Regions from separate parts of the Homo sapiens genome. Here all the other regions are linked to region 1. Evidence: fine-mapped expression QTL. A gene starts in region 1. Each other region holds a variant in brackets. All regions are shown on one strand. Distances are from middle to middle. Region 1 holds the start of LSM6 (LSM6 homolog, U6 small nuclear RNA and mRNA degradation associated). Region 2 has its middle 26 kb from the start of LINC01095. Region 3 holds the start of LOC105377469 (a long non-coding RNA gene). Region 4 has its middle 17 kb from the start of REELD1.

The links. PIP is the estimated chance that this variant, and not a neighbour inherited with it, causes the effect.
Region 2: its variant is fine-mapped to the expression of LSM6 in neutrophils (BLUEPRINT, PIP 0.95).
Region 3: its variant is fine-mapped to the expression of LSM6 in fibroblasts (GTEx, PIP above 0.99).
Region 4: its variant is fine-mapped to the expression of LSM6 in whole blood (TOPMed, PIP above 0.99).

What each region holds. Positions count from the first base shown.
Region 1 is chr4:146,171,181-146,179,289 of GRCh38, forward strand. It overlaps LSM6 (LSM6 homolog, U6 small nuclear RNA and mRNA degradation associated), which reads left to right and starts at 4,538. Exons shown (of 4, transcript NM_007080.3): 1 at 4,538-4,631. RefSeq lists a silencer at 4,688-4,747.
Region 2 is chr4:146,143,937-146,152,045 of GRCh38, forward strand. No RefSeq gene overlaps it. Among named protein-coding and RNA genes, the nearest start is that of LINC01095, 26 kb to the left of the region's middle. The variant T/C (reference allele first, on the strand shown) is at 3,425.
Region 3 is chr4:146,101,575-146,109,683 of GRCh38, forward strand. It overlaps LINC01095 (long intergenic non-protein coding RNA 1095), which reads right to left. Exons shown (of 6, transcript NR_038331.1): 6 at 7,881-8,109. LOC105377469 (a long non-coding RNA gene) reads left to right here and starts at 4,103. Exons shown (of 3, transcript XR_939294.1): 1 at 4,103-4,185; 2 at 6,311-6,506; 3 at 7,964-8,051. RefSeq lists an enhancer at 4,667-4,716. The variant T/C (reference allele first, on the strand shown) is at 4,408.
Region 4 is chr4:146,192,995-146,201,103 of GRCh38, forward strand. No RefSeq gene overlaps it. Among named protein-coding and RNA genes, the nearest start is that of REELD1, 17 kb to the right of the region's middle. The variant C/T (reference allele first, on the strand shown) is at 4,007.

The sequences.
Region 1 (8,109 bases):
AGTTAAAAGAATCACATACCTTGGCAACCATTTGCTAATTTTGAAAGTATTCCCAAGTGTTTATATACTATATTTATTTAAATTGGCCATATGATTTTAATTGGTTTCACTGTGGTAGAATTAGCTTCATTGAAGTAGATGTACTCTCCTACAAGCTGAATAGCAGCCCTGTGTAGCACAGATTTCCAACATAAACTATAATTCATAAAGGCCAACACAACTCTTTTCTTTGTAGCTGGGTAACCATTTATGTTTGAGGTGAAGATGTTAATATGGAAATTTTGTGAGCTAGGAAAGAGGATGAACGCTATCACTCTAATTTATGACCTTTCATATAAGGCCAAATGTAAAGGCAACTTCAATTGTTTTATATCTCAGGGCCAGCACATAGCAGATGTATGAAATTTGGAGTGTTAGACATAAACTTTTATTACCAAATTATAAATAATTTCTCCCACTTATAATGTTCACCTTTCAAGTTCATCTTGATTAAAATACAAGGGCAGCTTCACACCGATTTCACTAAATTTTACAGCTGAGAGAGGTTTTCTAGAGTTCACGGTGGAGTATAAAGCATCACAGCATTTGGGAGATTCTCCTTCCAGGAGCTCAGACTCTGATCCTATCTCTTTTAAAATTCAAGTCATGCCAAAATGATGGCTGATGAAGTCCGAACATTATTTAAACATCTCACATGTTACATCTGAAACCAAGCGCCCATGATGTAGAATATATCACTTCCTTGGGTAAGCAAAACGACATACTACTTTTTCTGAGAAATTTGCCCACCAGTCAATGAGCTTGTATCACTTCTTAGAAGGTATTCAACAACCAGAGAGTGTCTGTCTGTTTCCTTATTTTCTTTTTTCCCCTCCCTCCCTCTTTCTTTTCCTTCTTTCTTTTTCTTTCTTTCTTTCTTTCTTTCTTTCTTTCTTTCTTTCTTTCTTTCTTTCTTTCTTTCTTTCTTCTTTCTTTCTTTCTTCCTTCTTTCTTTCTTTCTTTCTTTCTTTCTTTCTTTTTTCCTTCTTCTTTCTTTCTTTCTCTCTTTCTTTCTTCATTTAAGAAACAGTCTCGCTCTATCATCCAGACTGGAGTGCAGTGGCATGATCTCATCTCACTGCAACCTTAGCCTGTCGGGTTCAAGAGATTCTCATGCCTAGCCTCCCAGGTAGCTGGGATTACAGGCATGTGCCACTACACCCAGCTAATTTTTTAATTTTAAGTAGAGACGGGATTCAACATCTTGGCCAGGCTGGTCTTGAACTCCTGACTTCAAGTGATCCGCCAACCTTGGCCTCCTAAAGTGCTGGGATTACAGGTGTGAGCCACTGCCCCCGGCCTCTCTTCATTTTCTATAACAAATAATTTTCATATCCCATGATTAAAGGCAGATAATGGTGGCCCCAAGTATCCAAAACTAGCACATCACAGCTTATGAGCTCCTATTGTACAGTCTGAAGGTCCAGGAAAGGTTCAGGTCCATGCCAGCACTTCATACCAGTTAATGCATTGCTCCAACAAGACCAGCCAGTATTCTTGGAAGCTTAACATCCATGTTACATATTAAAATCTGCTTTGGAGAGTGTTGGTCAATCCAATTACATGTTTGTATTTATCATCATCATCATCATCATCAACAACAACCACAACAACATCACAATACATTCATCTACATGTTCACAGGGCTGTTGGGTGTTTAATAAGCTAGACATGAGACCATCTTTTATGAATATGAAACATTGAAGGACATAGTTATTTAAAGGCATATGTACTATAGAACTGTAGAAGGGACAAACAATGAAGTGGCAAGAGTTCTCTTAGCATTTATATATCTGCATTTGTCTATTTTAAGCATAATAGCTTCAAGAGAATGAAAAGACAAGCCATAAACTGGGAGAAAATATTTGTAAAACACATATCTGATAAAGAACTATTATTCAAAATATACAAAGGACTCTTAAAACTCAACAAAAAGAAAGAACAAACTGATTCAAAATTGGGCCAAAGACCTGAACAACCAAAGATATACATATGGCAAATAAGTATATAGAAAGATCCTCCATATCATATGTCACTAGGGAATTACAACTTTAAACAACTATGAGATAGTCACTAAGCAGCTATTAGACTAGTCAAAATCCAAAGGACTGGAAGCACCAAATGCCCATGAGGATGTGGAACAATGGAAACTCTCATTCACTCCTAGTGGGAATGCAAAATGGTACAGCCACATTGTAAGACAGTTTGGCAGTTTCTTACAAAACTAAACATACCCTTGCTATATGATCTAGCAGTCATACTCCTTGATATTTGCCCAAATAAGCTGAAAACTTATTTCTATACAAAAACCTGCATACACATATTCATAGCAGCTTTATTCATAACTTCCCAAACTTGGAAGCAACCAAGATGTCCTTCTGTAGGTAAATGGATAAATAAACTGTGGTACATCCAAATAATGGAATATTATTCAGAACTTAAAAGAAATGAGTTGTCAAGCCATGAAAAGGCGCAGAGGGGTCTTAAATGCATATTTCTAAGTGAAAGAAGCCAGTCTGAACAGGCTACACAGTGGGGTGGTGCAGTGTATGCACCACTAACTGTGTACGGTATGATTCCAAATATATGATATTGTGGAAAAAGGCAAAACTTTGGAGACAGAAAAAAGATCAGCGGTTGCCAGTGGGGAGGAAGGGATAAATAGGTGGAGCACAGAGAATTTTTAGGGCAGTGAAACTATTCTGTATGATACTGTAATTGTGGGTACATTTCATTATGCATTTGTCAAAACCTATAGAATGTGCAACACCAAGAGTGAACCCTAATGTAAACTTTGGCCTTTGGATGATAATGATGTGTCAGTGTAGGTTCATCAGTCCTAACAACTAAATGAAACTAAACTACATAAGTTAAACTAAAGCTTGCCAAAATATTTTTATGACTTTAAGGCTCCTTAATAAATTAATGTTTACATTCAGGGTTTTGAAGACTAGTATTCACCAAAAGTCTTGCAGTGTTTTCTTTGCATCATAAAAGATGCTGAAAGCAAAAACCTGGGAAATACGGAAAATTGCCTTGTGAGTTAGTAAAAGTCATTTATAAGCTGCTGAGGGGCTTTTGGGAACAGCCACACTTTTTATAAGCTTGTTAGCTCATGAATTAATTCAGGATGCCCACCCCGTGTGTCAAACTGGGCCCTTACCCAGCTACTCCCCTTAGAGAAGGTTGCAGCTGCTCAGCAGATGAACTAGGCCCTTAAAACTCCTCATGGCTCCCTACCCACCACACTAGTGTTAACGGCTCGATTAGGGCTCTGTAGGAAAGGGAAAGAAGTTTGAATCAAAAATTTTCTTTTTTTTTTTAATAATTTAAACAATCAGTAAGGAATGTGCAATTTGATGTCGTTTGCAAAGAAAGTTTTTAGGAACAGGGCTTTTTATCCTATTATGTTTGTTCTTTGCACGTAATTATTTGATTTAAATGGTACTTTTCTTAAAATTTTTATTTACATTGTATTTTATATTGCAAGAACTTCAAATACAGCCCTCACAATAAATCAGTAACTGTTCGGTCTTTATCCAAACTGAACTTTTATAGAAGGATATAAGGAAGTCTCTATTCTTTAACAAATCATATCCAGTTGTTTTCTGTCCCTGATATCAATCAAAAGTTCATTTCTTCTGCCTTTAACCAAAAGAAGTTTACAAGGGAGGAACTCTTTATCTTCGAAAAAAATTTTGCATCTTAGATTTTATAACACCTAATGGGGTTAAGGATCTGTGTTGAAAGATCTTATCACTCTGTGTATAGTGTTACAAATCATAAATATAATTAAAGTATAAGTTTTCAACTGATGAGAGTATATGTGGAGGGGGAAAAACGAATCAAGTCCTGGTGTAACAGTTCTCTTCTTTTTCCCTTTCAATTCCATTAATAGAAAGAGTATTGAGAATTCATGCAAAATTCCAAACCAAGTTCCCATAGTAGCACTGAAATAAGTCTGCACACCATTTCCAATAGGAACTAGTAATGTAACACAATTAATGTCATTATAATTTGGAGTTACTTGAGTGATTTTGATTATTTTTGTATCAATTAACATTGCCATGGAAACAGTCTCTTGCTAAAATGGCTTAAGTCTTCACACATTTAATCAATATCCAGAGGTAGATTTAAAGACTTGAGGTGTTTCATTTATTTATTTATTTGCTTTAAACTATTCAAGGACGTTTCTGGGTACACAATGCCGTTACTTAAACAGTAAATTCCAGTTTCCTATGACTTCAAGTTATTTTTTACACTTCTGTAAATAAATCCTGCCCAAAAGATCACTTCTAGTTTCCTGGAATTTTGTTTTTGTTTTGTATTGTATTTGTTTTGTACTCAGATTTCTGTTAGAGGAACTCCACTGCACCAATTTTGCTACTAGACAAACCAGGAATCTTGGATTTGCGCGCTTTGGTGCTGACAGGCTTTTTCGGCCCCAGCGGGCTGCCGTAGCAGAGAAGAGCACTGATTGGCTGAGGCAGAAAAGTGCCCCTGCCTCGGCGCTTTCGGTTTTGGCTGGGATCATCCGCGGCGGCCGGGCTCGTGGGGCGCCTGGAGTGAGGGTTCTGGTTCCCGCCGGCGAGGTGAGCCGCACCGCTGCGCGGGCCGACGACGGGGCCGGGCGCAGCCCCAGGTTCGGTGCCCCAGTGTTCAGTCGCGCTGTGGAGCGGCGGCTGCAGCGGCCCTAGGCCGGGCGAGGCAGCCCCGGAAAGGGCCTGCGGTGAACAGGCTGGGGCTCCGGGAAGGGACCGCTGGGTGGCGGGTCCCCGCGAAATGCCGCGTCCAAGCTCTCCGCGCATGGAATGGCTGGGAGAGGTCTGATGGTGGGCGCCGGGACCGCCCTCAGCGAGGCGCCTAGACTGCGCGGAGAGGAGCGGCACCGTCCCGGCTCCTACCGAGTTGGCGTCCGAGATCAATTCAGGTTGTTGAAGTTCCCCAGGGAGCCCCGACGCTAATCCCAAGATTCGGCGGGAAAGCGGATCCCGAACCCAGGCCTAGGCTTCGCCTGTCTTCCAGGAGGGCTTCAGGGAATTGCGAACCCTCTCCTACATCGGGGTGGCTGCGCCTGACCACAGGAATTAAAGGCTGGACTCGCCTGTCTTACCAAGTTGTCAGGTCGAGGAACCCGATTGTATGGTCTTAAGTCCTATCGCCCAAGGTTTTCTGTGCGTATGCGTGTCCGCACACCTGCATAGCAGGCATTTTTAAGGTGTGTAGGATTAAGATGATGCGGATTACCCTGCCCCACTGCTCTTAGTAATACGTGACTATTGTAGAAAATTGCAAACATAGAAGACTTTAGTGAAGAAAATAATATTCACTGAACCCTTTCACCTACGATCATTTTCTCTTGTATGTGCTAGCTTCTACTTGAACTAAGAGTGTACATGTTTAATCACTTAACAGTGTAGTTTTCCACTTCCATTTAAAAACTCTTCCTAAATATTATTCTAATTTTGTATCTTCTTTTGATTGTCCTATCATTGTGGGTCCCAGTTTAGGTCCCGTAAATTATTCAGTCATTTCCCGATTGTGGGACATTAGATTGTTTTTGAATTTTTACATCATCTTAGCATCCCAGATAGTGCTTTGATAAACTCTTTTCCCCCTATTTTTTAGATTATTTCCTTGGACTAGATTCTCAGAAGTGAAATTATCAGATTAGATGCTGTCATCTGAAAGGTCTGTTTTAGGCCTTCATACACATTGCTGCAGTGTTTTCCAAAAAAGTTTTAGAGATGTTTGGTAATTTTACTTGCTTAAATATTGTGCAGAAATCTTGAGAGGCTTGTGTTTGTGGTGTGTGTGTGTGTGTGTGTGTCACTGGCGTTAATGCGTTAGACTACCTGAATGTTAGGGCAGGAAGAGACTTAAGTGGTCATCTGGCATAACTCCCTTATATTGCAGATGAGGAACCTGGGGCCATGAGAAGTGAAATTATGAGTTATCCAAGTCACACAGCTAATTAAGTAGCAGAGCTGGGATTAGAACTCAGGTTTCCTGCCTCCCAAGTGAGTACTCTGTGCTGTATCAGGCAGTCTCTCACTGAACTGTGGCATAGTAGATACTAGAATTTAAAAATTTGTTTACATCACCTGGGTTATTCTCTCCTTTTAAAAGTGTACTAACAGATTTTAATCATCGGAGAGACCTGTAACACTGAAAAATTGGAAAGTGATCATTTTCATGGCCAAGACTAGAAATCCATTATTTAGAATGGCAACCCCTTCAAGATTTTGACAGTTGTTTTCAGGTTCCCTATATGTTAGAATAAAACACCCCTGATTAATTATAACCTACACTCCATCATTTGGTTAGAATGTAGCTTTTGGTTATCATTTGCGGTACCTTGGAGATTTCTTTAAAACTCCTCACTTTAAAACCAAAGAACAATTTTTTTTATTTTTATTTATTTTTATTTATTTTTTTATTTAGGGCTTATAGCAGAGATTGTCAACTTCCATTGACATTTTGTGCTGGGCAGTCCTTTGTTGTGGAGGGCCGTCCTGTTAGTTGTAAAATGTTTAGCAACATCCCTGGTCTCTACCCACTAGGATAGCAGTAGCACCACCTTCCTCAGTCATGACAGTTCAGTGTCCCCAGATATTTCCAAGTGTCCCTGAGCAGGGTGGGGCAGGGTTGGGGGTACTGCCCCTAGATGAGAACCATTTGCTTATAGAAATTATCTGGAGAACTTTATAAAATGTAAAATACAGTGCCTTTACCTGAGTAGACTTCGGGAAAATCTGCATTTTAACAAGCATCTCTAGATTTGGAAACAGCTGGTTCTTGAATGACACAAACAGTTGTTTTCTCAGTTTTTGGTGCTCATAATAGAGATTACTTGGTTAGTATTTGTTGAAGTACATGCATGATCCTACTGGTCACTGTATCCATAGTTTGGGCTGATGGGGGCTGGACAGGGATTTTGCTTGGCACTGGCCTTGAATGTCTCTTCCACAGACTTGGGTAGTGTGCTTAGGTACCAGGGACACCAAGTGAGTAAGATATTTTCCCTGTCCCCAAGAAGCTTTAAATTCGCACGGGAGACCAGTCAGCAAATGGAAAAATTACGAAACAGCCTGATAAGGGCCATGACTGAGAGTGGAAAGAGGTGCTCTGAGTGGACTCACTTCGCCTTTGGGAGAGAGGGAGAGAAGTAGCCCCTGCTGCCGAGGAAGGAGGGATTGGTATGAAGCCTTCAAAAGACAGCGAGGAACTCCACTGTGTCCGAAGGGAGGATTTAGAGAGCTGTTCTTCTGCCTATCTGATCGCCTCCTCAGACACTGATCTATTAGTCTAGTGCTGCAATTACTTGGATTGTAATGTTTCCTTGCAATTTTTGCTTTTCAAATTCTTTTCACCCTAAACTGTAAATACGCCAGGAGTAGGTAAAAACTTACAGGTAAACATTGCCAAGAAATAAGGATTTTCATGTCTTCTGCTCAGTGGCATAACTCAAATCACATGAGATAGATTTCTTTGCATCTGTCCATTGTATTTCTCTGAGGCTAATTTACAGCACTTTGTCACGTTAGGTATTTTTTTTCCCCAGTGCTGCTACTCTCCAACTGGATTTCTCACCGCCTCTATTGCGATTCCCCAAGATTTAACCAGAGAATCTTAACATATTCAGAAGGGCAGCTGTACCTGTGAAAGGGCTTGGGCTTTGGGGTCAGCCTTGGCTTTGCTTTCCACCTCACAGGGTTTCTCTGTAAATTGCTTATGAATCTAACTCTGGTAGCACATAGTTGGGTTAATAAAAGTTCTTTTTTTTCTTCATTCTTTTACCAAAAAGAAAAAAATTCCCTGCAGGGCACTTTGCAGATGTTTTCATACTAGACCTCTCAGTAGCTTCTGACAGAAAATATACTGCCTTTGACTTAATAGTCATTTATGAAAATAGGTCATTTAAAACAAGCCTGAGTAGGAGTCAGGGGAGGGAGAGGAGGTATAGAGAGTGATTATGACTTTAATTTTGAAAGGAGAAGTTTTACCAGGGTGACCCTGAAGAAAGGTCTTTTTCCTCTTATGTGTTTATGGTTCAAGAGACTCATCTCT
Region 2 (8,109 bases), 27 kb before region 1:
CTGGTAGTTTTTTTACATAGCAAGAGAAAACTGGAACTCTCCTCATTGGGCTGTTCTTAGTGTTTCATAACAGTCTATAGAGATTCATCTCATATGATGAAACAACTGGCTGCGTGTTCCTGCGAAGCTATGGCCGGCTCACTAATGGACCACACTGTATTTGCTGTCCCTCCTTCCCTGCCTCACTTCCCCTTTTGCTTGACTCAGCCCAGCCTGGGATTATACTACCAAAAAATAAAGCATTAGCCACCAAGCTTAGTAAACTTTCTTGTTTACTAAGAAAGTTAGTACAAGAAGTATCCTAGAAAGGAGGACCTTGGAGTGGGACTTTGAATTTGATGCCCATCTGTCTGAAAACAATCAGATAATTGGGACAGCAATAGCCTCTAGAAGTGGATACACAGTTGCTAATTCTTTCACCTGTGGTTAACTGGGATGAAGTACAGGTGGAGAGCAAACCTGGAAAATCACGGAGCTACCGCCTTTGGTCAGTAAAGGGGTGGCAATTGCAGTGCAGATGAGCTGTTTTTGGGACATTTGAGGCTTTGCTAAAAGAAAATGATACACTCAGGGCATCTTATTATCAACTTAAGTCATGCAATGAAAGCCAGAGGCTCTGTTTAAATGAGGTGCTTATCTCCTGAAGCTGCACTTAAAATTGGTTTAGGATGTAATTATAAGGGTGGCAGATATATATATATATATATATATTTAGTTTTTATATATATAAATAAAACTAAATGTGCAGTCTCAATAGGGACTTGATATTAAAGTCAGGGTCTTGATAGGGAAGAGTGGAAAATTGAGACCTGGAATGGGGATATTTGTAGGCAAGCCTGGATCTTTCTGACTGACAAAAGAGACTGTTTCCCCTTGGTAGTGGTAAAGAATCACCCCTTGCCTGGTAAGCATGCAATGATCAAGCTTATGAAGCAGGTGCCCCCAAAATCACACTGATTCTAAACTTTTCCTCAACACCCACATTAACCTCCTCTCACTGCCTCCAGGCAAATTTTCTTCCTGCTGGGGAATACATAGCCTCTGTGCCAAAGGAAATCTTGACCTTGATGAAATGTGCTGGCAGAAACTGTGGGAACACCTGTGGGAATGGATCTTGAAGGCATTAGACTGTAGGAGGCACACGGGCTGGATCGGTGAGAACGGATTGACATGAACCACTCCACTGTGACAGAGGATTTGGTGTTCTGATAAGGACACCTGGCGCTTGTCCTTACATGCTGCTACAATGATGCCTTCAAGCCTAATCACTATGATGGCCTAAAGTGAATGAAGTAGAGATAAGAGAACTTCCTTGACATAGTTTTGAGAAAGGAGGCAGAAGTCTCAAGGAGGTAGGCATGTGAGAACAGATTCACTTTGTAAGACCTACCACCTGATTATGTTTCCCATAAGGCTGCCTTCATGAGGCAATAAAGAATGCCATGGGGAAATGGGGTTAGAGTAAGTGGTGGGACAGCAGCATCTTTGAGAAACCCAGTGGTGGCTGTCCTCTGTAGGCCAGGTTCACAGTAGGAGGTGCTGCTTTGGAATTGGGCCCCCTTTAATTCATGGTGGTAAAAGGAATGTGGATGATCAAAGACCAGGTGGCAGCCATTAACCATCAAGGAAAAGATAGATCTAATAAGCCTTGTGAACAGCAAGGCCCCAGTTGAGTGAGTGCCTACTTTCAAGGATGTATTGTAATGGGAAACTGACTGGCGAGGGGCGGGGATGCTTGATTTGGATAACTTAACATCAAGAGCTGTTGCGTAGAAGGTGATCATTGCCTTCCACAATAGAAAACTGCACTCCATCATTGAGTTTCCAGATCTAAGTCAGTTAACAGACTCAGAGTCCATTGATTGAAGGAGATTCTGGATCCCACAGAGGAAGGACCCTGTAATGCCACTGCAAGCATATACAGTAAGTAGTCCTCTGATCCTTCCCCAGAGGGAACCAAAGTAATTTGCCAGGGTAACTGGACACTAGGGAAAGAGTAAAACTTAGACTTTTTGAGGACTATCAGCTACAGTATATGAGATGATACTGACAAAAGGAGACCTGAAACACCATCATATTAGAACAGAGACTTGATTAGAAGAGAGGGTTATGGAGACCAAGTCTGTCTACTAAAGGGTTAAGTGGTTTTGGACACCCACTTTGCAATTATTTCTCTTGTTCCCAAAAGTATGATGGAGAAGATATACTTAGCTTCTGGCTGCACCCTCAAATCAATTGCCTGTCCTGTGGAGTAAGAGTCATTGTGGTAGGAAGGGCTAAGTGTAGGGTCTCTCAACCTCAGCCCTTTTGACATTTTGAACCAGACAGTTATCTGTTGTGGGGTCATTCTGGGCATTGTAGGATGTTCAATAGTATCCCTGGCTACCCACTATATGCCAATAACGACCTTTGTTATGATAACCAAAAATGTTTCTAGACATTGCCCAATGTCCCTAAGAGGGCAAAGTCACCCCTGATTGAAAACCACTGGCCATGTTTAAGTCTCTAAAATGGCCTCATCTCTTGTCAATTGCAGGAATAATACCACAATCCTTGAAGAATTACAGAGATTAACACCCTCACCAAAGATAAAGGGATTCATTTCCCTAATATTCTCTTGATTCAATTCTCTGGACTCTGTAAAAATCAGATGGACCCTGGAGGATGATGCTGATGTAACCAGAAAACAGACCTAATCAAAGCTACAGTGCCAGATGAGATATCTTTACTATGGCTACCAACCCTCTAACACTGGATATACAGCTATTGATATGGCAAGGATTTTCTTCTTAATAGCTATTAGCAAAAGAAGCAGCTTGTGTTTTTTGGCTGTCAAGAAATATTTAAGGTCTAAGGTTTCACCCTATTTATAAGCTAACAATAGCCCTCCCACAGTTTCATGGAAGTTTGCAGAAGACATAATAAGATCTTGGGTTAGACACAAACAGCTTTAGCACTCACAGAAAAGGCAGTAACCAGCGCTTCATGTTCATTTGTATTTGTTCCTTGTATCCTCTAAATCCCACAGAGGGGAGCGATGGTGATGACTCAGGTGGGCCAAGAGGATTCCAACTCACCTAGTGTATTGCATTACAACAGAGGGATTCTGAGTTAGGGAATTTACTGCTTTTACTATAAACCTTTGCATTGCCTAGGAGGTTATGCAACTCATTTTTCAAGGTTGCTCAATGCAAACACAATCCTGAGAAATCACCTGGGTAAAGAGTGGTCAGAGCCTTGTATTCTTCGCACATCCAGCAACAATGCACAGGGACACTCAGGGCTCATGAACGGTTCCCACTTTTAGCAGTGGTGCTATGGACTAAATATTTGTGTTCCCCCCAAAATTAATGTGTTGAAGCTAAAATTCTCAATGTGATGGTATTTGGAAGTGGGGTCTTTAGGAGGTAATTAGGTCATGGGT[T/C]GGAGCCCCCATGAGTGTGATTAATGCTATTAAAAGAAGAGACACTAGAGCTAATCTCTCTGTCCACTATGTGAGGAGACAGCAAGAAGGTGTCCATCTGCAAACTGGGAAGAAGGCCCTCACCAAGAACTGAATCTGTGGCATCTTGGTCTTGGACTTCCCAGCCTCACCTTCACCGTCTTGCCTCGGTGTTATGTCAGCTCTTGTCTCTGTCATCATATACTTCACAGGAACCATGGCAACCTTGACATTACATAGAACTTCATGCTGGTCCACGATATTGAGAAGATTATGCTAATTGGACTTGATCAGTAGGAGATTTCAGGAACCCTATATCTGGCAAGTCACATGAATGCCAGAGGTGGGAGATTAATTTCACAGAAGTTGAGGATCTTCTACATTGGTGAAAATTTTAGGAGTCAAGTCACCTGTCAACTTGCCTAAAGCACATCAGAACAACCCCTTATAAAATAAAGCAAAAATGGTTGCCCTTTGCATCTCTTACCACCAAGAAAGAGGCACAGTGCATTTTGGCCTTCTTTGGATTTTAGAGGCAGCTGATATTTCACTTGAGAATATTTCTCTATGGTGAGCTCAATGTGATCAGATTTATAAGTCATAAAGTTGGGCAGAAACATTATTTGATGGAAATGGTATATTCAGGACTTGGCTCAAGTTAATCCAGAAGATACCACAAATTATGTATACAGGTGACTCAAATCTCATGTCACCTACCTCTTTTGCATCAGTGGCTGTCCCTAAATTCACACTTATGGCCTCACGGGGAGGGGACTACAACCAGTTGATGGAAGAAGAAAGGATTTGGACTTTGCTCAGAGTTTGGCCCTTGTGGTCTGGTTGTTCACTGTTCTCAAGTGTAATTTCATGAGGCCCTGCATGGAGCATGCTGTCCTTCCCCAGGCCGTGAGTATAGTATACGTGACTAATGAACTGCTGTCAGTTTTATCTGTCCAGCGTTGGGTGTTGTGTTTGGCCACTCCATACACCTAAAGGGGGAATTCCTCTCTCTCCAACAGGGTAAAGAAAAAGTCAATTAAAACAGTAGGATCAGCTTCTCACACTCTTCAAACCTAGGTTTTCCTGGGTAGGGTCCTGGTTCCAGGAAAGGGAGGTCTTGATTCAGACAAAACAGTGAAAGTTCCACTAACCTGGAAGCTTCAACTACTCCTTAGCCACTTTTCATACTAGTAGAGTAGCAGGCAAAAAAAAAAAAAAAAAAAAAAAAAAAAAGGAGTGGGGCAGGCAGAGGGAGGGAGGGTAACTATATGGGCTGGTAAAACCCCACTCTGATTACTATGAGAAGCTACTGTTACTATTACACCCTGGAAGCATCCTTTGAATTTGTCTGGAATGGGCCCATAGCTACCTGTCTTGGGGACAACTTTGGGCACACTTCATTTAACATACCCAGGAGATGGGTTTTCCCAGGGCTAGGCTCGGACACTACTGCCATCATGTGTGCCATGATGAAAGCCACAGCAGTTTGGTGTCTAGGCCAAACTGATGGGACCCACTGAGGACCTAGCTCTTCCCACCCAGAAGATGTTGGATCTGACTTCCCCCATCAGCTGCCTGGAAGGGCAGGTCATGCAACCCACAAGTGTAAGGGAGTAAATGTCCTATGGGGCAAATTTTGACCCATGAGAGACAGTATACAGAAATAAGGGGGAGGTGAGCTAGTAACTAATTGTTCTCCCCTCCACACACCGAAGGACTTTTTTGAGATGGTGGTTGGTTCCACATAGTTGTATGGATATATGGCATGTGACAAGATAACTTGCTGTGGTTTTCTCTTCCTTTGTTTTATCTTTTGCAAAGCTGTGGCCAGCCTCATAATATATCACTTTATATTTATTCTCCTTCCTTGCCCTCCTCATTTATGTTTTCCCACTCTCTATTGTCCTAAGGTTGCACTCCTTCCCAATAAAGTTTAGCATGTAAGCTTCATCTTCAGGTTCTGTTTATTGTCTTAACTTATGCTAAATCAATGTGCAGCAACAATGGGTTTCTGAATATTTCGGACAGAATAAAATGTACCCACACAATAAAAGGCAGAAGTGGAAAAATACAGTATTTTCAACTGAGACAGGGCACTTTTTGCATGGTGAGTGAGAACAGTAAAACAGAGAAAAACGTGGTACTCTCAAGATACTTAAATTCTTTTTCCAAACTCACCAATCAAATAAGTTATTTCTCTTCTGACTGGGAAAAGTGAGTGAGAGGCAAGGATAGCCCACAGGCTATTCTATTACCTGCCGCCCCAAGGATACATGACCTCAGGGAATTAGTTCTCCTTTCATGGTGACCAGTGTTTGGCATTTATTCCTTTTGTAATTGTCCCACAGTTTGGGGGGTATTCATCTTTTCAATTATTTTTTCTTTTTGTCTTTCAGATTTGGAAGTTTCTTTTGGCATAGCTTCAAGTTTATTGATTCTTTCCTTGGCTGTGTCCAGCCTATTGCTAAGCCTTCCAAAGGCATTCTTCATTACCATTATGGTGATTTTGATTTGCAGCATTTCGTTTTAATTCTTCCTTATAATTTCTATCTCTCTACTCACATTACTATCTTTCTGTTTGTTCTTGCATGTTGTCCACTTTTTCTGTTATAGCCCTTAACATGTTAATCATAATTGGTTTAAATGCCTGGTCTGATGATTTTACAATCTCTGCTGTATCTAAGTATGGTTCTGATTCTGCTTTATCTCTTCAAACTGTTTTTTGTCTTTTAGTATGCCTTGTAATTTTTTTTTGTTGAAAGTAGCATGTGATGTAGTGAGTGAAAGAGAATGAAGAGAATAAACTTTTAGTGCAAGGTTTTATGTTTACGTGGCCAGAGTTAGACTTTGTTTACTGTTTGCTGTAGCTGTAGGTATCAGAGACTAATTTTTTTTCTGGTGGCCTTGTTTTAGTCTCTCCTGTTATCTTTGGGTTTCTTTAGAGGCTTCTTTTTTTTTTTTTTTTCTGAGACAGAATCTCACTCTGTCACCCAGGCTAGAGTACAGTGGCGCTATCTCGGCTTACTGAAACCACCACCTCCCAGGTTTAAGCAATTCTCCTGTCTCAGCCTCCTGAGTAGCTAAGATTACAGGTATGCACCACCATGCCTGGCTAACTTTTGTATTTTTAGTAGAGATGGGGTTTCACCATATTGGTCAGGCTGGTCTTGAACTCCTGACCTCAAGTGATGCACCCGCCTCGGCCTCCCAAAGTGCTGGGATTACAGGCATGAGCCATCATGCTTGGCCTAGAGACTTCTAAAATAAAGTATGGGAGGTGCAGTTATTTCAGTTGTAATCTCCTGTTATTGTATAGGAGCCTTATTGATGTGTTGATATGATGTGGGGAAAGGCGAATCATTCTATGGGCCTATGATTAGGTAGCAGTATTTCAGTGAGCCTGTGCCCCTGAACCATGGCCTTCACACATGCTTTTCAGTTTTTTTTCTCTTAGATGAGACAGGAAGGCTACAGAGGGTTAGAGTTGGTTATTTTTCTCCCCCCAGGTAAGTTAGGTTCTGGTAGACCCTACTTTGGTTAGGCTCTTGTAAACTGGTTTTCCTTGAAGGTAGGTCTTGTTAGGAGGAATAGAGCTCTGGTATATTTCAAAATGACTCTAGACTTCCCAGACTTACAATGGTTTGACTTACAATTTTTCAACTTTACAATGGTACAAAAAGTATACACATTCAGTAGAAACCATACTTCAAGTATCCATACAAACATTCTATTTTTCATTTTCAGTGCAGTATTCAATAAGTTACATGAGATATTCAACATTTAAAAAAATAGGCTTTATGTTAGATAATTTTTCCCAGCTCTAGCCTAATGTAAGTGTTCTGAGCATGTTTACGGTAGGCTAGGCTAAGCTATGATGTATGGTAGGTTAGGTATATTAAATGCATTTACGATATTTTCAACTTATGATGGGTTTATCAAGACATAATCCCATTATAAGTTAAGGAGCATCTGTACATGTCCCCTCCTGCTGATGGAAGCACAAATGACTTTTTTGTAACCTTCACTGTAAGAACCTAATAAGGCTCCTGGAGGTAAAACTCTTGAAAGTGTGGAGGCCCCCTAAGACTGGGCTCCCCCTGGCATTTTTAACTCTCAAGCTGTCCACACGGGGCCTCTAGCAATTCATCAGTTACCGTTTAGGTTGTCTGGCCCTGGTACTGGTTCCTGTGGAGGTTTCTCCTCCAGTAAACCATGTTTCTCTGAATCCACCTATCTCTCCAACTTTTAGGGCAGCGGTTTGCCTTGTGACTTCAATTCTCAGATGGATCTAAAAACAGTTGTTGATTTTTAGTATGTTCAGCTTTTTTCTTGTACAGATGGGAGAAATGACTTCCAAGCTCCTTACATGTCAGACTGGAAACTGGAGAGCGAGACTTTTCTTTTGCTTGCCATTTATAAACTAAAATTTTAGGGAAGGTGATTCAGTATTATACTAATAAGGCTGCCTACCATGACCTACAATATTGTGCAATTCTTGCTCTACATGTATAAATATATGCGATTGGTGAAAAGCAAACAAAAACAAAACCCTGAAAGATAAGAACTGGTATGATATGGGGGCCATGAAGTCTTGTGCTCAGCCTAAGTGGGCCAAAGTTTAAGAGCCACTACAGCATATTGTGACCTTGCCACTTAGCCACCTATGT
Region 3 (8,109 bases), 70 kb before region 1:
CTCTACTTTTTCAAAGATCAGATGGTTGTATACATGCAGCTTTATCTTTGGGTTCTCTATTCTGTTCCACTGTTCTATTTGTCTGTTTTTGTACTAGTATCATGCTGTTTTGGTTACTGCAGACTTATAGCATAGTTTGAAGTTTGGGAATGTGATGCCTCCAACTTTGTCCTTTTTGCTTAGGATTGCTTTGGTGATTTTAGCTTTTTGGTTCCATATGAATTTTAAAATATTTTTTCTAGTTCTGTGAAAAATGACATTGGTAGATTGATAGGAATAGCATTGAATCTGTAAAGTGCTTTGATAAGTATGACTATTTTAATAATATTGATTCTTCCAATCCATGAGCATGGAATGTTTTTCCATTTATTTGTGTTATCTGTGATTTCTTTCAGCAGTATTTTGTAGTTCTCCTTGTACAGATCTTTCACCTCCTTAGTTGGATATATTCCTAGGTATTTCATTTTTTTGCAGCTATTGTAAATAGGTTTGCATTTTTAATTTGGCTCTTAGCTTGAATGTTAATTGGTGTTTAGAAAGGCTGAGTTTTATTTTAAAAATAAAGGATACACATTACTTAGTTTTAAAATTTAAATATAAGTAAGTACACAGAAAAAAAAAACCTTACTCTTAATTATCTAATCTGGAAGGTCAGCAAATTATGGCGTGTGGGCCAAATTCAGCCCACAACCTATCTTTGTCTTTAAGGTTTTATTGGAATGCAATCACGCCCATTCACTTATGTGCTACCCATGGCTACTTTCTTGCTGAAATGGCAGATGAAGTAGCTGTGACACAGACTGCATGGCTCACAAAGTCTAAAATACTTACTATGGGCTGGGTGCTGTGGCTCATCCCTAAAATCCCAGCACTTAGGGAGGCCGAAATGGGAGGATCTTTTGAGCCCAGGAGTTTGAAACCATCCTGGGCAACACAGGGAGACCCTGTTTCTAAAGAATATAAAAAATAAAAATAAACTAGCTGGGTGTGGTGGTACATACCTGTGTTCCCAGCCACTCGGGAGGCTGAGGGAGGAGGATTGCTTGAGCCTGGGAGGTCAAGGCTGAAGTGAGCTGTGATCATGCTACTGTGTTCCAGCTTGGGTGACAGAGCAAGACTTTGTCTCAAAACACATAAATAAAATAAAATAAAGCAAAATACTATTAGTCCCTTTATAGAAAAAGTGTGCCTACCTCTCATCCAATCCCACCAACTAAAGATCATCATTATTATTTGGCATATTTTCTTCTAATATTTTTCTATGTGTATACATATATTGGAAAAAATGAAATCATATTCTATTTAGTGCCCACAATTCTGCAAATAATGGAAATGTTATACATCTGCACTGTCCAATATAATTATTGAGTATGGAAATGTGCCTTCTGTCACTGAGAAACTAAATATTTAATTTTATTTAATTATAATCAATTAAAATTTAAATAACCACATGTGACTAGTGAGTGCCGTTATGAACAGAACTTTCTTGAAATATTTGCTTAATATTTCAGGATCATTTCTTTAAATCGTTAAATTCCTTATGAAACCCTTTTTATAACTGTATAATGTTATAATGTATGGATGAGTCATCATTTACTGAGCCAAGCGCCTATCACTGACACTTCGGTCCCAGTTTTTCACTATTATAATCCAATTCCATGATGAACATTTCTGTGCATGCAAATATTTGCACATGCCTACGATTATTGAATTAGGATAAATTTCTACATGCAGTATCATTTGATCAGAGAACGTAAATATTGTTCAGAGTTTTAAAATATATCATCAAATTGCTAGAGAGATCCTTCCATCCTGCCTACTTGAGAACAATACAGGAGAGTGCCTATTCCCCATATTATTCTGCGTATATTTTTAAGAATTGTCTTGAAAAGAGTCTCCTCCCTTATCTGTTCCATCTGGACTGTCAAAGAGATGATTGAGTAGGATACTTTGTGAAGACTCAACAGTGAATTGAGAAAGATGGGGACTGAGATCAGAATGGAGCATTTTCCACTGAAGTTGTCTACACAATCAAGGCTTTGGGCCACTTGAATAATTTGCATGATCACTTCTAAATGTAGTGCTGTGGGCAAAGTCCTTATGCTGTGGCAGGTCTTGACATTGAAATATTCTTGCTTGGGGGCAATGAAGACTTAAATGGACATGTGTGTGAAAATGAAATAGAAATGTAAATGGCGGTCGGGGTGGGTGGAGGTGAGGGGGTTGGGGGTGGGGATGGCAGTAGCTCCTTTTCATTCTCTCCACCTCCCATCCCCCAGGATGGAAGATTTAAGAAACAGGCAACAGACCAGGCGCGGTGGCTCAAGCCTGTAATCCCAGCACTTTGGAAGGCAGAGGTGGGCGGATAACGACGTCAGGAGATGGAGACTATCCTGGCTAACAGGGTGAAACCCTGTCTCTACTAAAAAAATATAAAAAATTAGCCGGGCATGGTGGCAGGCACCTGTGGTCCCAGCTACTCGGGAGGCTGAGGAGGGAGAATGGCTTGAACCCGTGAGGCGGAGCTTGCAGTGAACCGAGCTCGCGCCACTGCACTCCAGTCTGGAAGACAGAGTGAGACTCCGTCAAGAAAGAAGAGAGAGAGAGAGACAGAGAGAGAGAGAGAGAGAGAAAGAGAGAGAGAGAGAGAGACAGAGAGAGAGAGAGAGAAAGAGAGAGAGAGAGAGAGAGAGAGAGAGAGAGAGGGAAACAGCCAACAGAGAAATAAAGGAACGGAGGAACAAGGCCACGGGAAGTGAATAAGCTCAGGTACCAACCACAAGTGGTGTCAACAAACATAAGATGTGGGGGATAAGAGCAAGGGTCTTCTGGTGAGAAAAACATGGAATTGAGTTTTACTCTGCCACCTCATCATGCACCCTGAGTAAGTGGCTTTATCTCCCTGGGCCTCAATTTTCTCAAGAGAATAATAATAGTTCTCTATGTTTAAGGATCATTAAAAATAATCAATGTGAAAAATTCAACACAGGGCCTGGCTCATATAGCACTACAAGTGAGGGCCACTGATGGGATTAGGATTATCTTTCTCTCACGCTGAAAATCAGGGGGGCTGCCTCCTCCAGGGCGCTAGTCCACACAACCCCCTCATGGAAAGCATCCTCACCACCAACAGGCAGGTCCCCTTGGCCTGGCACACAGCCCAGCTATAGCATATGTATTGCTCAAAGAGGATGGCACTTCTTGTAATGTGCTTTACCCAGGCGTTCTTGAAAGTCAGTGACCTACCATTTAGGATGGCCTGGGCTACATGGCGCCCCCAGGATTTGGGGGTGGAGGTGACTGTCACCTCCCCTGCCTTAATAATTACTCTCTTCCCAATAACTGATTAGAATGGGTCAGATCAGACCTGCCCAAGGCTGCCTATGCCTGCAGACATTTTCCCACCTATGCTTATTCCTCATCTCTAAAATGTACCAGTTTTGACTTTTTTTTTTTTTTTTTTTTTTTGGAATTTAGAAACTCTGATCTCTACCATTCAATGCAGGGGAAGCGCTGTTATATATCTGTTGTGTAACATAGAGAGAGAAAAAACACATTAGTCGATTTGTAGGCAACTATATTCCTCTCCTCCTCTTGTGGCTGTTTCTCTACTTCCTTTAAAATAAACAAAGGCCAAAAGTGACTTCGGAAAATTCCCAAAGGGAAGAATAAAGCCAACATGAAAGACTGTCAAAGGCAGGCTTGCCGGATTTATAAAAGCAGGGAACCCCTCCTACCCTGTCTCCATCCACACCCACCCCCTACTCCATACACACACTTCTTTTTTAGCCAATGCCTCAGTTAGCACAATACTAACATTTCAGGGAAGGCTTGGGTGATTTTTCTTTAGGAAATAATGGTCAACACTATTCAAAAACCAAACAAGCTAAAGCTGTTCCTTGAATTGGTGATATATTTGCAAAGATGAAATTACACAATCCAGACATGCTAGTTATGAACACAGAAAATCTTCTACTTCTCTGTTCAAGGGTCAGAAAATGAAGAAGTCATTTAGATATTTACCAACTTCACAGTGGCTGCTGAAAGTGCCAGCCAAGTTTTTGAAACAAAAGAAGAGATGGCCATGCAGCTCACAGGAGAAGCAACTGCAACCCAATTGAAGTATTTCAACAGCTGGTTTCATCACCAACAGGAGAAAGCTGACTCTTTTGTGGAGTTCAGAAAGTGAGTGAAAAGGTTACATTTTCATAAAGATGTGCATAGGCAGGGCATGCAAAACCAGTCCTTTCTTGCTTTAGAAGAGACAGAAATCTTGAGCGTGGACATACTTTCAAGTTCCAGCACGTAGATCCATGGTCATGATCGGGTGGCCCAAAACTGCCTGCCTTAATGAAGATGCTCCCGGGCCTACACATGGAACAATCATGAACCTTCAAGGGATTTCTT[T/C]TGTGTCCTTATCCACCACATTCACATTCAATTTACCTAATACATTTCCTAATGAAACAATTAATACATTCACATATGAAACTAATTAAGACAGAGCTACAGCTTTGCCTGCTTTTTCTACAATTGAATTACTGAGACTCAGCCTGAATTCTAAAACTCTCTTCTTGAGTCATTAGGGGAGGAAAACGAACCACATGTGTTGTGAAACTTGCACATCATGGGCTCCCTGTGTTGTCACCAGTGCAGGAAGCGACACACTCCTGGAGTAGTGGGTGGACCTGTGGGCCCGGCATGGTGGCTCATTCCTGTAATCCCAGCACTTTGGAGGCCGAGGTGGGTGGATCACAAGGCCAGGAGTTTGAGACCAACCTGGCCAGCATGGTGAAACCCCATCTCTACTAAAAATACAAAAATTAGCTTGGCATGGTGGTGAGCACCTGTAGTCCCAGCTACTCGGGAGGCTGAGGCAGAAGAATCGCTTGAACCCAAGAGGCAGAGGTTGCAGTGAGCCGAGATCTTGCCACTGCACTCCAGCCTGGGCAACAGAGCAAAACTCCATCTCAAAAAAAAAAAAAAAAAGCTCCTATAGAACACAGAACTCAAGATACTGACACCATTGGTCTTGTAGCTAAGATGCCTGGAAAGTCTAAGTGTCTATGTTGAGTGTTTACCTTTTTCAGGTGTGACTTTTCTGAGAAATTGTAAGTATGTCATGTCTTGGACATTCTGGGCATTCCAAATCATAAAATAGGATTCCAGATTATTCTGAATGGCTGTATTTACATCATCCATTTCAACATCCATGTCAACATACATGTTGCTGAAGGGGTAGCTTTGGGAACTACTGCTCTGAACACAAATTAATGGTAGGAGGTACTGACTGAAAGCATCATGTGGTAGAAAACCCCAAATGCTTTTTTCAAGAACTATATATGAACTGTGTTTGTGCACGCACAGTTGTATGCTCATAAACGTTAATAAATTGGTATTGGGCAACACAATTAACATTCATTTCATTGGAGGCCCACAATATGCTAGGATTTTTTTCCCTTAATGATGTTTCAGAGCAGGATGCTTTGGTCCGAAATACATTGAAACACGCAACAATGAAATTCTATTTCTTTCTAGTAGTATGTTAAAGGCACCATGGGGGACACAAAATTATGAACCCCAAACTGCACCCTCAGGTTATTTACAGCCTATTAAGAAAAGCCATGTTTTTTCCCAATAACAGAGAATTCAAATACAGCTAGTCCCTGTGTTTGTTGTCAGAAAGAGAAAGAAAACCATACTTTGTTGGGACACATCATTATTAGTGTAACAATATATAAACATATGTCAACATGAAAAGCTTAATTTAAAGTATCATGGCATTACAGATCCCTTGTCTGAAGAATAAACTCAGTCAAAGAAAGTTGGAATGACTTGCCCGGGGTCACATAGTACTGATGATATCAGAACCCAGCTTTTTGACTTCCAGGTGGAGAATTACAGGTAAACTGAGAGTCCCTGGCTGGGTTTGGTCAGGTCCTTTATGGCTCTATAATGCTACGACTCTCTGAGAACTCTATGACCATGCTGCCACTCTCCTGACATTCTTTTAATTAATAAAATCACTCAGCTGAACAAAAATAATGGTTTCATTAAGATGCAGAAAATGCCACATTTAATCACTAAAAATGGCATAGTGTATCATTCACCTTAGGGAAATTTTTATGTTTAAATATGCAATATAGAGATATTTTAGATAATTAGCAACAAGGAAAGGCAACTAATCTATTATTGCATAATATTTGATTACCTATTAACTTCGGCCATGTAATTGAACACATAGCCAATGACTGTCACTTCCTGGCACTAAAGCCCAGGTAGATACTGCTCTGTTTTCATTCTGTCATTCTAGCCATTTCTAGGATGAATTTCCTTTTATTTGGAAGGAGGTTTTAAACTGAGCATTTGACGTCACATTGTTACCCACTGAAAAGTGCTCTCTGTAAGTGCTTCCTGAAGAAGGCAAGGTTGAAGTGAACCCTTTCAAACCAATGCGTGGCACTTTGTTAGCATTTGCTGAGTGTCCAGCACTAAGCTAGGCTTGTGAGGTAAGAAAAGAAAGTTTGTACCTGTTTTTATCACATGGGGCCAGTTACCTTTGTCTGCCTTCCAGGCCCTGGTTGCTAAATCCTGGGAAGTCTGTAATTACATTAGAAGATGGGATTATTAGTGATAAAATGTGGTGTTTTATAGATAGTGCTCTGAAACTTTGTTTCAATGGCCTTTCCCACACAGTATCTCAATAACCCTAAGGTAGGCAGGAAAAAAAATGTTACTGAGGCTCAGAGAATTTAAATGGCCTGCCTGAAATGTGACAGAAGGCAGACCCAGGACTAAAATGGAAGTCCTTGGAAGCCTGGCCCAGGGCCGTTCCTTCCTCACAAGGAAGGACTTGTAAAGAGCTTGCTTAATTCAAGGTTCCTTTGGCCTGGGATATCCTTTTGCTCATGCTCACCTGATGCCTCCAAGATAGGATTTCTGGGTATCCCTTCTTACCTGACATGCGTTCTGGCCACATCTTAGCCTGTAGTGCTCATGTACCTTCTTAGTCTCTAATCTGTCTATTGGTGCTTTGATATGTTAACCACGGGCTATCTTACTCCCTCAATTTTATTTTTGGATAAATTGGAGAAAACAGTTTTAAAACGATGAACTATAAGACTTTGATGCTGATTCTTTATTCTCAGTCCCAAGCTTTGCCTATACTTCAAAACAGATCTCAATGGACAAGGAAAAATAATATCAGCATTTCACTGGGCATCTAAAGTGCTAGGCATTGTGCTAAAAACTTTGAATGTTTTTAACATTGTATCAAGATGGGGACTGAAGGGCTTTAAACCCAGGCAGTCTGAATCCAGAACCCAAATGTCAGCTATGACACTGCTGTTGTCTCCCACAATGCCATACTTGCAAGTTTTGTGTAACACAGAGCATTTAGAAATCTCTTTAAAATTATGAAATTCTGGGTTTTCTTCCCCTGCTGTGGCCCAAACACAAACTAAGAACATACCTAACGAACAGCTGCAATTGATATTTTCATCTTAATTAGGGATTAAACATCAAATAAATTATTCTATTTAAGATGATTTATGATGTCCTAACTTTTCCAGTAGTTCATTTCAAACAGATTTTTAATAGTAGGAGAAAACAGTACCATAGTAACTTTTTAAAGTATGTGTGGGAAATTAACTAAAAATATTAAAAAGATCACTCACCCACTGTTAGCCTTTATTTTTTACCCCAAAACAACATGAGAAAATGAGTTTTTTCTTTTACCTTTGCTGTACCTTCCTCTTTGAAAATAAGCCCATTAATAAGAAGATATAAAAGGAAAATGTATCTCAAGACAAATTAAACTTTTTAAAAGAAACAGTTCTATCAAAACAAGTTTGCAAATAAAAAATAATTACCAAATGAACATATTAGGGGAGTGTAGCCATTAGGCATGTTTTTATTATGCAATAATTTATCCATGAACAGTTTATATTTCATATCCATATTACAGTGTTTTTTTTCCAAGTCACTGGGAGTACTCAAGCAGAGCTGATGAAAATTCATCAATCTGGGAAGTTCCAGAAGGGATTTTGCAGTGAGTAGAAAGTTGAAATCTTGGATGATAACGTCCCTTCCAATTTGAAGATTCTATAATTT
Region 4 (8,109 bases), 22 kb after region 1:
ATGACATTGCACCTTCCATACTGAGTTTGTAGGTTTGGGTATTTATGGGGGAAAGTGGTACCCTCCATCCTTTTTTTAAAAAATTGGGCCAAAATTGTAAGAATTCTTTTAAAAACCTGAACATTTTAGATGGATTTGAGCATCTCAACTGTATGTTCGTATCTTGAAATTCCAAATAAACTCAGGAGTGGATAATTCTGAAATCTGAACGTAACTATGCCCTGTTTACCCACAGGCCCAGGTAGTTCAGCCTCCCATCTTTGTTTTTTTCCTTCTCCTAGAAAAGCCAGCTTTTGTGTGGTTTAACTGAACAGTCATGTTGGATTTTTTTTTATTTGAAGACCCATTTTGACTCATCTGCAGCACTGAAGGATTTTCTTCATAGTAATTTGGGAGTTATAGCAGATAGAAAGGCAGAGGCATATTCCAGGAATTTCATGAAATATAAAACACTGAAACACTTGGGATAGGCTAGTTTTCAATGCCTAGGTTACACAAATGTCCAAATTCACATGGGCTTAATTTATTCCAAGTTTTATAATGGGATGGATGTTGGTGAGTTTGGCAATATACCAATAATTTGGATTAAAGGAGAGGTTAGTTTATGAAAAGTTTACGTAACAATCTTAGGCAATTTTATTACCATCATGTGCATACGGTATTTCAAGTCACTATTCAGTGTTTATATCAAATAGACGTTTTATTGAACTTGGAAAAATGAAAAAATTAAAAATGTGTAATATGTACGGTAGAGTGGATGTTGCTGGGATACAGGGCTCCTTATACCCCGCCCACAGTAGTGTGTTAGTCACAAACCCCAAATCTCAGTGGTTTGAAACAACTAATGATCTTACTTATGCTCCATGTGCACAGGGGCCCATAGGTGGGACTCCACTGATTGCAGTCACCTGGGGGCCCAGGCCGAGGGAGGTAGCACCTTATGTTTCCACCATCTCAACCTGAGGAATCAGCATCTGCTGTGGCAGGGGAAGGGCAGAAAGGATCACTCCCTGGCTCCTAAAACCTTTTGCTTAAAGCTAGTGTCACTTCTACCCCATTATTAGGCAAAGCAAGTTACACGGTCAGGGCTTACTTTAAGTTTTCAGAAAAGTATAATCCTTTCATGGACCCAGGAGAGACAACCAGAAATACTGGTGAACAGTGGTAGTAACCTACCACATGATGTGTACTAGTCATGGTTCCTCCAGAGAAACAGAACCAATAGGATGTATAGAGAGATTTTAAGGACTTGGCTCCCACAATTGTGGAGGCAAGCCCAAAATCTGCAGGGTAGGCTGGCAGCCTGGAGACCCAGGGAAGAATTGCCACTCAAGTCTGAAGGCTGGCTGCTGGAAGAACTCCCTTTTCCTCCAAGGAAGTCAGTGTTTTCCTATTAATGCCTTCAACTGATTGGATGAGGCCCACCCACATTATGGGGGGTAGTCTGTTTTATTTACTTTAAATAGGTCTACTTATTTAAATGTTAATCTCATCTTTAAAAAATAGCTTCATAGCAACATCTAGAGTAATGTTTGACCAAATATCTGGGTACCATGGCCTAGCCAAATTGATACATGAAGTTAACTATCATGGTATGTTAACCATATCCTTTGCATTATACATTTTCTTAATCATTAGTAAAGCATTCAGAAGTATAAAGCATCGGTGTGATTTTTACTATATTGAAAAAAGAATTCTTTCTTTGTTAAGACTTGGGTTGAGGGACCTGTGCTCTTGGTGTCTTAATCTATTTTTCATTAGATTCCAAAGAAAATAGTAACTGGTTTCTTCATGGTTTCAGAAGCTGAGTCTGAATAGATTGTTTTGGTTTGGTTTTGTTGCTGCAGTTTAATTTACAATTTTCCAATTAATATATTCCTATATTTAAAAGAAAATGCAGAAGGTGACCATCTTTCATTAGACCAGGTAATTTTATCTCAAGCCAACCAAATGTGTTCCATCCACATACTGTGAGGAGATGATCATGGAGTCTTTAGTATACCTCAGAACTTGCCTCATGTAAAATGTGTCTCAAAGGCACAGGGCATGTTACAGCTAAAACTTTACCTTATCACTTTTCATACAGTGGGTTTTTATGGCTCTCCCTTTTCAGTATATTCAAAACTCTTTACAAGTATCTTCCTCCTGAGAAAGTGCATGTGTTCCTGTCTTGTTCAAAGATGTCCCATCAACAGGACCTGATCTCCAGTTTGCTTTTGTCTTTTTCCTAATTGTGATATTCTTGGCAGAGCCTGCTTCACACCCTGTTCCTTGTCCCCCTGGCACTGACATAGATAGATTTCTGAGATGATTTCTCCATGCTGGGAGTGCAGTAGAGGAGACTCATGAGGATCAGACCTCCACCTTGGTTTCATTAGCCAACTAAGCTAATCCTCACATTCTCCTCTCGTAGTCACTGAACAAGGTAGTCCCTTTTTCCACATGAGGAAACCTGAAGCAAAGAGGTTAAAGTGACTTGCCGAGGGTCACTTGGTGAGTCGCTGCAACTACAGTAACAGTTCCTTCTGCTATTTGATCAAGTGCATAGGTGTGGGCTCCATTGATTTCTTCTTCTAGCATGCATTTAATTAATAAATCAATCTTCTCTTCTGATTCATCCTACCAGTAGTCGAATGAAGAAGGTCCCAAAGTGTGCACACAGACTGCTGTCCTCTACATTCAAAGATGATGTTGCTGACAGTGATTTGCTATCATCCTGCTTGAGTGTGACAGGAAATATCAATAGTTGGCCAACAGCCCTTTATACACCGGGCCAAGGTAGAAAACTGCTCCTTGGCTTGCGTCTGCAGGCACTGTTTGCAGAGACTAGCAGTTTTTGAGATGACTGTCTCTTAGAATTTGTTTTTTCTTCCCTGGAGTCTCTCTAATCCTAATTACTACTCAACAGGCTGTTTCCCAGCAGCCGTTTGCTGGACCTTTGTGTTAGAAGCTGTGCATCATCAGACCCAGTAGGTCTGTAGGAGAGAAGTGGAGACAGGCTGTGTGTGCATCTGAATCGACTTTCCCTCCCTGGGCAATGCTGACTAAATCTGTGGTTCTTTTGTCAGTGACTCATTTGCTCAGATGCTGAATGAAGACTGAAGTAATTTGTTTTTATTTTTTATTTTTGAGACAGAGTCTCACGCTATTGCCTAGGCTTAAGTGCAGTGGCATGATCTCAGCTCACTGCAACCTCCTCCTGGGTTCAAGCAAATTCTCCTGCCTCAGCCTCCCCAGTAGCTGGAGTAACTTTTCGTATTTTTAATAGAGACGGAGTTTCACCATGTTGGCCAGGTTGGTCTCGAACTCCTGACATCAAGTGACCCACCTGCCTTGGCCTCCCAAAGTGCTGGGATTATAGGCATGAGCCACCATGCCTGGCCCCAAGACTGAAGTAATTTAATGTCTTTTCTCACGTGAGATTTGCCATGTCACTTGGCCCCCTTCTCTGTATCCCTCATTCTCATTTTGTGTACTTAGGACTTTCCCAGGCCCCATTCCTTGAGCACAGCCCATACCCCAAAACCACTCTACCCCCAACCTTGGGCACATTGCTTAAAATCACCATGCAATCATTTTAAATTCAACCATGTTAGGTTGTGCATTTTGTGTTAAGTACATTTTTTGTGACATGTTTACTTACAATTTCTCTTTTCTTATTCTTATCATTTTTCAGTGTATTATAAAACATTAGAACTTTTTTTTTTTTTTTTTTTTTTTTTGAGACGGAGTCTCGCTCTGTCGCCCAGGCGGGACTGCGGACTGCAGTGGGCAATCTCGGCTCACTGCAAGCTCCGCTTCCCGGGTTCACGCCATTCTCCTGCCTCAGCCTCCCGAGTAGCTGGGACTACAGGCGCCCGCCACCGCGCCCGGCTAATTTTTTTTGTATTTTTAGTAGAGACGGGGTTTCACCTTGTTAGCCAGGATGGTCTCGATCTCCTGACCTCATGATCCACCCGCCTCGGCCTCCCGAAGTGCTGGGATTACAGGCGTGAGCCACCGCGCC[C/T]GGCCTAGAACTTTTTTTTAACTTTTCATTGAAACTGATCACTTTAAGTACTGTGAGGGAAAAATGCAGGATGTCAAAGAGATATAGCAAGCCTTGATCAAAATGCCGTATTGTGTTTGCATTTCCAGAAAAAAGGGGAACATCTATTGTAAAAAAATTAAAATAGATGGGTGAGAGGTTGAGAGATAATAGATAATAGATACTATTTCCCATGATTAGAACTGTTTTCCTGAGTGAACCTATATACCCTGTTCAGAGAAATGAATTTATTTTAACTGAAAGGAAAACCAGGTTGAATGATCATCAGGTAGAGAATTTTTTTGCGGGGGGCGGTGGGGAATGGACAGAGTCTTGCTCTGTCACCCAGGCTGGAGTACAGTGGTGTTGTCATAGCTCACTGCAGCCTCAACCTCCTGGCCTCAAGTGATCCTCCCATCTCGGCCTCCTGAGTAGCTGAGACTACAGGAGCACACCACTATGTCCAGCTAGGTAGATAATTTGAAAGCCATTCTTTTTAATTAAAAACCAGTGCAGACTTTTAACATGATCAATTTTGCTGCTGTCATTCATTTCCCTTTAATGAAGTGAAATTTACCCCAAATTATGATTCTCTTCTTTCTCCCTCTTTCTACTTCTGTTTTATGGGAGAAGCCAGCTTTTAAACTCTGTAGTTGGAATCCCCTACCCCTACCTCGCCTAAATTATCTTGGCATTATTTCTCTCCTATTTGCCCTTATTCTGAATTTCATGTCAACTTATTTATTATTTTAACAAGCTGACCCTTCCTCAAGCTTTCTGTGTGGAGGGGAAGGGACTGTGCTGGAGTCCCTGTTGTATCTCAGTGGAAGCTGTTCTCCTGACATAGCTGGTGATTTTGTGGGCAGTTGGTGTGTGAATGCCACTGACCTAGGTACTTTAGGAACTTGACAAAACCTGAAGAAAAGAGTTTCCTATCAGGATTTTACAACAGTGAGACCAGATCAATTTCAGTGCCATTGTATATCGGAAGCTCCTTGAGGGCAGAGCTGTGTTTCTCTTGGCTTTTTATTTCCAGTGCCTGAAGGTGCCTGAGATATTGGTGTTCATTTGCTGTTTTCCTGCTGACAAATAATTACATAGAAACAAAATCCTGGTGTCTTTAGATAATTTACCTAGGTCTTTGGTAAGCATTTTGGCTTCCAGATAGAAATTCTCTCATCCTCAGCATCAGGCTCATTATTATTATTTGAAAATTTGAAAACACTGGCAAAGAGGCAAGTTGCAGTGCAGTAATAAGGTCCTTAATTTTCTACCATCTGCTGGAAGTTCATTCTGCTGCAAGCTGACCATCTGATGCATTTTTGGTTTGTTGGGCTGACAGTTTTACTGCTTAGAAATCAGAAGAAACAACACACTGGACTCATAAGGAGAGAATGCTCATTGAACGGGGAATTGATGGGAATTTGGGAAAAAAGGTGGCTGTCATCTTGGCGAGTATGCCAGGGAGTGAAATAAATCTTTTGTTGTTGTTGTTTTTTGTTTTGTTTTTGAGACAGAGTCTCACTCTGTCGCCCAGGCTGGAGTGCAGTGGCGTGATCTCGGCTCACTGCAAGCTCTGCCTCTCGGGTTCACACCATTCTCCTGCCTCAGCCTCCCAAGTCGCTGGGACTACAGGCACCCACCACCACGCCTGGCTAATTTTTTGTATTTTAGTAGAGACAGGTTTTCACCATGTTAGTCAGGATGGTCTCGATCTCCCGACCTCGGGACCTGCCTGTCTCGGCCTCCCAAAGTGCTGGGATTACAGGCGTGAGCCACCTCCCCCAGCTGAAATAAATCTTAAGTGTAGTCAGACACATATCCCAGCCTTTGTGAAAGCAGTTATAAAAAGTTCAGTTCAGGAAAAAAAAAATATCATCTTGTGGGAAGACACAGAAAGTTTATGAAAATTTGTAAAGTATCTTTTTGAATACAAACTCCAAAGAGAAAGAAAAAGAGAGCCTTCAGAGAGCTAACACATATTCAAGTCTTACTTTGTGCTGGCCATTGTTCTAAGCTCTTTACAACTAATTTCATCTTCAGAACAACCCTATGAAATTGATATTATTATTCCATTTATAAATGAGGAAATTGAAGCACACAGAAAGGAAGAAACTTGCTCAATATCACCCAGTTAGTTACTGGCAGAGGTGAGATTTAAACCCAGCAGTCTGGGTCCAGAGACTTTAAACCACTTGCACCTGAATATGTCAAGAAGCCCAAGCCCATTTTGAGTTAATTTTTGTATGTGTTGCAAGATAAGCATCCATTTTCATTCTTTTGCATGTGGATATCCAGTTTCCTAGCACCATTTATTGAAGAAACAGTCCTCTCTCCATTGTGTGTTCTTGGTACCTTTTTCTAAAATCAATTGATCTTAGATATGTGGGCTTATTTCTGGGGTCTCTGTCTTGTTCCATTGGCCAGTATGTCTGTTTTCATGCTAATACCATGCTGCTTCAATTATTATAACTTTGTAATAGATTTTGAAGTCAGGCAGTGTGATGCCTCCAGCTTGTTGTTTTTGTTCAGTATTGCTTAGCTATTTGGGGTCTTTTGTGGTTCCATACATATTTTAGGATTGTTTTTTCTATTTCCTTAAAAAGTGATATTGGAATTTTGAGAAGAATTACATTGAATCTGTAAATTGTTTTGCATAGTATGGACATTTTAACAATATTGATTCTTTCAATTCATGAACATGGGACACCTTTCGATTCGTTTGTGTCCTCTACTATTTCTATCATCAATGTTTTATAGTTTTCAGTATATAAATCTTTCACCTCCCTGGTGAAATTTACTCCTAAGTGGTTTTTTTTTTTAATGTTATTGTAAATGAAATTGGTTTCTTCATTTCTTTTTGAGGTAATTCATTTTTAGTGTAAATAAATGTTACTGATTTTTTTTTTCTTCTTTTTAGACAGAGTCTCACTCCCATCGCCCAGACTTGAGTGTAGTGATGTGATCACTGCTCACTGCAGTCTCAGCCTTCCAGGATCAGGTGATTCTCTCACCTCAGCCTCTTGAGTAGCTGGGTAATAGGGAGATGCTGATCAAAAGGTACAAAATTTCAGTTAGGAGGAATAAGCTTTAGTGATCTATTACACAGAATGTATAATAATGTATATTTCAAAATTGCTAAAAGAATATATTTTAAATGTTTTCACCACAAAAAAATGATAAATGTGTTAGGAGTTGGATTTGTTAATTAGCTTGATTTAATCATCCCACAATGTAAACATATATCAAAACATCATATTGTAGCACATAAATATATAATATATACAATTATTATGTTAATTAAAATTTAAAATAATTACTTGAAAAGAAGACCAAACTCCCAGATATGCTGAGACTTTTCAGAATAAAGTGGACAACAAAGGGACAAGGCCACTCATTAATGAGGATAGCCTGGTGTTAACAGATGGCGTGGAGGCCAGGCAACTCGGGTCTTATTTTGTTTCTTTGTCCTTCAAAAAGAATCATCTCCAAGCTGAAAATATTTCTAGGGGAGAAACGGAATCCACCAAAATAAAGAAGACTGGAACTCCTCTAAGTTAACTCTCCAGGGGCACTGATGATATCACACTGCACAAAGCAACTTGCAGGTGACACAGGAAACACTGTTAGGCACCTGTGAGACATTGAGGAAAATGAGACATGAGCAAATAAATGCCCTGGTTTTAAAAAGGAAGAAAGGGTAGGGAAACAACAGACCAGCAACCTTGATGCAAAAACCGTGAATACTCAAAAGAAGTAGAAAATATGTAGAAAAAAAAGTTGTGGTTTAAAAGCCAATATGGGTTCACTTAAAGAAGGCATGTCAAGACCACAGAATATTTTAATAGGTCTAGAAACTACATCTATTAAAATATGTAGAACCTATACCTTCTACACTACTAAACTAGAAGGATATTGTAATTGTAACATCATCATCATCATTGATGCCACTATCATTATCATCCTGGGTAAAAACTACTGAGCAGTTTCTTTGTTACAGGTGCTATATATCTGCAACACTCAGTATAAACTGCCTCATTTAATCCTCAGAACCAACCACCCTATGTCATAGTATGGTCTCACTT